Linked DNA regions of Homo sapiens: region 1 is linked to region 2. Evidence: fine-mapped expression QTL. A gene starts in region 2. The other region holds a variant in brackets. All regions are shown on one strand. Distances are between the middles of the regions.

Region 1 (2,919 bases), 200 kb before region 2:
AAAACAAACAAACAAACAAAAAACAAAATAACCTTGTGTCAGTTCAGTACAAGACCAATTAAGTTTACCTATTTCTCTTCTAATTGGCTATCTGCCAGAAGCAAAAATTTGTCCTCCATGTAGAAAATCAGCTACATCAGGAGCCTCACGTTATCTTTAAATCTTTTCATATACAGTGTCTGACATCCAGTAAAAATTATCAATCATACCAGACACAGAATCAAATCACTGAAAACAAGGAGAAAAACTTGGGATAATAGAAATAATAGAATAATAGAAATAGATGCATAATTGATAAAATATTAGTTATCAGACACAGACTTTAAAATAATGTGATTAACCTGTTCAAGAAAAATACATGACACAATAGAGTTTTTCAGCCAAGAAATAGAATAAAGAAAAAATCAGATAGAAATTCTACTTGGAAAAATAGATTAGCCAAAATAAAGAACTCAATGGATTGATTAAACAGAGGACTGAACACTGCTAAAAAGAGAATTAATGAACTGAAACATATATAGGCAATTATTCTTGCATAAAAGCCCACTTTTTCTAATGTTATATATCAACTTTCTTTTGGTTAATATTTGTGTATACAGCTTTTTTATTAATTTTTTTCTCTTTTAAATTTGCTTTCAACATTTCTACAGCCTTACATTTAAAATGCATCTCATGTATGTCATAAATGTCTGGCTTAAAAAAAAAACTGACAAATCTTTTAATCACAGTATTTAGACTGCTTACATTTAATTAAAACTCTCATATATTTTTGTTTAAATTGACTATCCTACTATTTACTTTCTTTTTGTTCTGATATGGTTTGGCTGTGTCCACATCCAAATTTCACCTTGAATTGTAATAATCCCCACATGTCAAGGGCAGGGCCAAGTGGAGATAATTGAATCATGGGGAGGCTTCCCCCAAACTGTTCGAGTGGTAGTAAATAAGTCCCATGAGATCTGATGGTTTTATAAATGGGAGTTCCCCTGAACAAGCTTTCTTGCCTACTGGCATGTAAGACGTGACTTTGCTCCTTATTCACCTTCTGCCATAATTGTGAGACCTCCTCAGCTATGTGGAGCTGTAAGTCAATTAAACCTCTTTCCTTTATACATTACCCAGTCTCGCCTTTGTCTTTATTAACAGTGTGAGAACAGATTAATTTTTTTATTTTTCCTCAATTTTAGTCAAGTATTAATCAAGTACTATTCCACAGTCTCTACTACTTTATAATTCATTTTACTATTCTTTTATGGATTACCCTAAAGATTAAAACATACATTTTTGATTTATTTTTTAATATTTATTATTTTTGCTATGTCCCCAACAATGCATATACTCTTTTCCCACCTTTTGATCTATTAGTTGTCATGTATTTTACTTATTCAAATATTGTAGACCATACAATGTATTAAATAATATATTAGCATTTATTCAATTGTACTTATATAATGTATGTAATTTTCCATGTTTCTCACCCTCCCATAGTTTCAAAACTTCTTTTCTGTTCATCTAAAAATGTTTTCAACTAATTTTAATTAATGTATCATTTTAAATTATCAGTTGGATCTTCAGGTGGAAAATTTGATTAACATTTTCATGACTGAAGAAAAATATCAATAGAACTTATCACATTTAGGCTAGCTGAATTTTTAAGTGAAGCATCTTCTTGGACTTGAGTTTGTTTAATGAAACAGAGGTCTTGTATAGTTTTGCTCTTCACGTCTTTTCTAGATGAACA[C/T]GGGGGACAGAAAAGGAACCAGAGAGACCCCGTTATAGTTTTACCTTGGAGAGCAGGCTAAGATGTGGGGTAGAAAGATTATAGAAGCAAGATTTTTCAATTGGATGTCTAATTATTTTTAAGGCACTATGTTTCTCTTAGCCTGATTTACATTAAATCCAGAATACGCTGTCTTTCATTAAAACAATTTTTGGTAACACGAAGGCAGAATTATTAATAGCTTCATCATTCTTCTTATCCAATGCTGAAACATTCAAGATAGACTTTTAAATTATTGGTACTGAAAAAAACTCATTTCCTTCATCATTTAAAGTTGTTGATTTCCCAAATTAACATTTAGCCCTTTCTTTAATGAGACACACAGAAATAAAAGGGAGGTAGAGACTTTTCTCTTGCATTTGGACCAAAATGACTTTATTACTTAGTATAGTTAAAATCATCAAAGACAGCTTCCATGTTTTAACAATGGATTCTCTGCAGTTTATAGGGATATTGTTCTACAGAGGAAAAACAAACTGAGGACTTTTATAAGAGGGCATTCTTGGTTCAGGGTGCATTATAAATGATACACTATCACTTTCAGACCTGATAATAAAAAGAGACAAGGTTTTAATGTTAAAACACTAAAATTGATTTATTGATATTATACTTGTCAAGTACAGGAGGAACCAGCTTATAGTGTTGATAAGGTGAGCATAGAATTTAGTTTGGTTATAGATACAGTTTATTATGCAATGCAATTACACAACCAATTTCTTGAGGGTTCTCTGAGGGTAGACTGAGTTGAGGCAGCCCACTAGAACTGGATCCTGAGTAATCTGGAGAATAATAATGACCCCATCGTTTCAGGCAGCTAAACTTCTCTACCTTCATACCTAAGAGTTCACATAAGTGCATGATAGCCAAGCCTGCCAAACTAATTAATTACAGTCAGTTTTGAAGGGACTGAAATGAAATTTTGATCAATTTCATTCTCCAGCTCTAATCTCTTCTCCAATTTATTTTAGTCTAGATTTCTCTAAAGAGAACCCCTAATACAAAGCCTTACCCACAGATAGTTTATTTGGGGAGTGATACAAGTGAGAAAGGGAGGGGGCATGAGGATTGAGACAGGAGAAAGGGAAATAATCCAAGGGTGCATGTTGAATTGGCCATCACTATGGAGGGCTGATGCACCA
Region 2 (2,919 bases):
CCTAGGATTAGAGATATGATATCTTAATGTAGGAGAAGCCTTCAGACCCTAAGCCAACCACTCAGAAACCACTCTTACATTTTGCTCCAGCCCCTCAACTTCAATGCCTACCTGCAAGGGAAGAAAACCTGGCAAAGAAATTGTAAGAGAGATTTATGCCTTCAGTCTCCCTGGTTTCATTGCACCAATTTCATCCAATCCCTAGGTTCTGTTTCCCTGTGCTTTTTCTACCTACTTCCCAGGAGACTTTCTTATTCTCTAGGAAAGGTGGTTCGAGCTGGGGTTAAAGATGGAAAAGAACCTTTCTCAAAAGGATAGTCTTGCTTTGTGTTGTGTAATGTCAGCTTCATGTGAGGAACACTGGCACCTAACAGGCTGGAAGAAGACAAAGACAGCAGCATTGAAAGGGACGGTGCATCACAAAAAGTGCCAGGCAAGGTGATGTCTGAGAGCAACAAAGACTCTCAAGGCAATATTAAATGCATTTCTAGAAAAGAAAAAAAAACCGAGGGGAAAGTTTCCATTTATTAGGAAAAGATGATCAACTAACATAATGTTTTCCACACACTCATACTGCCCTCTCATTCCCTACCCACTCCCACTAAGCTGTGTGTGGTTGGGTTTGAGTGTGCAAATCAAGTATGTTTGTGTACACGTAGGCAGTCCTTTGATGTCTTGAAAATGACCAGGTGTAGGTGAAATGTTTTATACTTACTTTTCCATCACCATAAAGATTCTAGGAAGCACTTGTCTTCATTTATCCCGGGGAAGGTGGAAGATCTCGGTAAAGCCTTGGAGTCTTATGAGGTGTTGGCAGGATGCGGTTGATACTCCCTGTATTTTAATTCGTGTTTTCTTGGGAGGAGAGAGGGCATGGAGTGTAGGTGGAAGGCCCAGAAAGAGCCAAACGATCTAGTCGTTTTTCTAAAGTTCTCAGTAACAACCAGTTGTGACGTCTTAAGAGAGAAAGAAGGCCTTTTACAGATGGACAGAACATGCTGCTTCTCGGCCCCGGCCACAGTTGGGAGAAGGTGGCTGGTAAGTACATGATGCAGTTGAGTTGATTTACATTACAAGTTGCAAATCAGGGTCTGTGCATTGAGTTTCCCTCCGGTTGTGAAAGGGGTCTAAGCGCTTTGCTGGGGCCTGGCAGGCCCCTCCCTGGGCTGCAAGGATCCGCCCCTCTATTCCCCAGATAAATTCCTAGTGTCCACCAAATTCCTCAGCGCTCGCTCACCCTCCTCTACGGCCACGACTCTGGGAGTGGGGAAACAGAGAGCCGGTTCCTCTGCTGCAGAAGTCCTCGGGGTTCCTTCTCACAACTCTGCGAAGGGGAAAGGGTTGTGAGACCCAACCAGACCCCAACTCCAGCTCCCAGCAGGAGGTGGCTGCGCCACACTCGGGAGGCCTCTTGGTTTCAGGGTCTCTCTGTCTCTCTCTCACCCTCTTCCTCGCTTTCTCTGTCTCTCTGTCTCTCTCTCTCTCTCTCCCTCGTCCACTCCCCCAAACATGTCCACCGGCTCCCTCAGCGATGTGGAGGACCTTCAAGAGGTGGAGATGTTGGAATGTGACGGGTTGAAAATGGATTCGAACAAGGAATTTGTGACTTCCAACGAGAGCACCGAGGAGAGCTCCAACTGCGAGAATGGGTCTCCCCAGAAGGGCCGCGGCGGCCTGGGCAAGAGGAGGAAGGCGCCCACCAAGAAGAGCCCCCTGAGCGGGGTCAGCCAGGAGGGGAAGCAGGTCCAGCGCAACGCCGCCAACGCGCGAGAGCGGGCCCGCATGCGAGTGCTGAGCAAGGCCTTCTCCAGACTCAAGACCACCCTGCCCTGGGTGCCCCCCGACACCAAGCTCTCCAAGCTGGACACGCTCAGGCTGGCGTCCAGCTACATCGCCCACTTGAGGCAGATCCTGGCTAACGACAAATACGAGAACGGGTACATTCACCCGGTCAACCTGGTGAGTGCTCCCGGGGCTGCAGCTGCAGTCCAGGCGCGCCCGCACTCCCGCCTGCGGTGGGCGCGAGTGCGCGCGGGGCTGGGAGTGGGGGTGTGGGCGCGGCGGTGACTTACACATCTCGACCACCGCGGGCCTAGAGCCTCCAGGGACCGGAGGCGGGCGGTCTAGACACGGCCCTCGCTCTCTGCCCTACCAGCCCCCGGAGCGGGAGTGATTTATGCGAGGGTTTGACGTGGCAGCCCAATTAAAAGTTTGCAAGTGTGTTGAGCTGGCACAGAGGAGGGATCCCCCGCTCCCGCTCCATCGCCATCCTCCCTGGGGTGCAGTGGCTGCTGCGGAACTGAGAACACTGACAAGACGCTGCGAGCGGACAGGCATTTTGTTAATCCTTTTTTCTTCTTTTAGCAGAGAGTGGAACTTGATTTTCCTTTCCTTGTAAATAAAAACACCCAACTCCGTTTCTTTCACAAGCATATTTAGGACCATTGGATAAGGACACATCTATGCCCCCCAAATTGTCCACGTAAGCCCTTAACCGCTTAAATATTCTGTGCTTCTCCTATAAGTGGATTAATATTTTTAAATCCCAGAAGTTCTAGTAATGATCAGCAAAATCAGTAAATCCTCACTAGTATGAGTGTAATAAATACTAAAATAGGTCACTCTCACCCAAGATTTAAGAAATGTTACCTTTTATCTTAAAAAGTAATGCCCATTGAGCCTAATTTTTTAACACAAAAAACTGATAATCATTGAGTCTACTTTTTTCTCAAATGTATTTTACTGTTTAAGAAATATATCTTAATTTTTTTCATTTGATTTTATTTTAAAACTTCTAAGATCTAAAGAAAAACAATAACAACAACTTACTAGGATCTCTGTTTGTATATGATAAGAATGAGAGATTTTTCCTTTTAAAAGGCAAGTCTTATCAGCTAGCACTAGAGCAGTAGTGAGAGG

What was found. PIP is the estimated chance that this variant, and not a neighbour inherited with it, causes the effect. A credible set is the group of variants that fine-mapping cannot tell apart.
Region 1: its variant is the best candidate, but not a certain one, in a credible set for the expression of TCF21 in skeletal muscle (GTEx, PIP 0.60).

Annotation. Positions count from the first base shown.
Region 1 is chr6:133,685,826-133,688,744 of GRCh38, forward strand. All of the region lies in intron 4 of TARID (TCF21 antisense RNA inducing promoter demethylation), which reads right to left. Among named protein-coding and RNA genes, the nearest start is that of LINC01312, 130 kb to the right of the region's middle. The variant C/T (reference allele first, on the strand shown) is at 1,742.
Region 2 is chr6:133,887,889-133,890,807 of GRCh38, forward strand. It overlaps TCF21 (transcription factor 21), which reads left to right and starts at 1,225. Exons shown (of 2, transcript NM_003206.4): 1 at 1,225-1,959. The coding sequence starts at 1,510. It overlaps TARID (TCF21 antisense RNA inducing promoter demethylation), which reads right to left and starts at 1,118. Exons shown (of 9, transcript NR_109982.1): 1 at 716-1,118. RefSeq lists an enhancer at 773-1,686.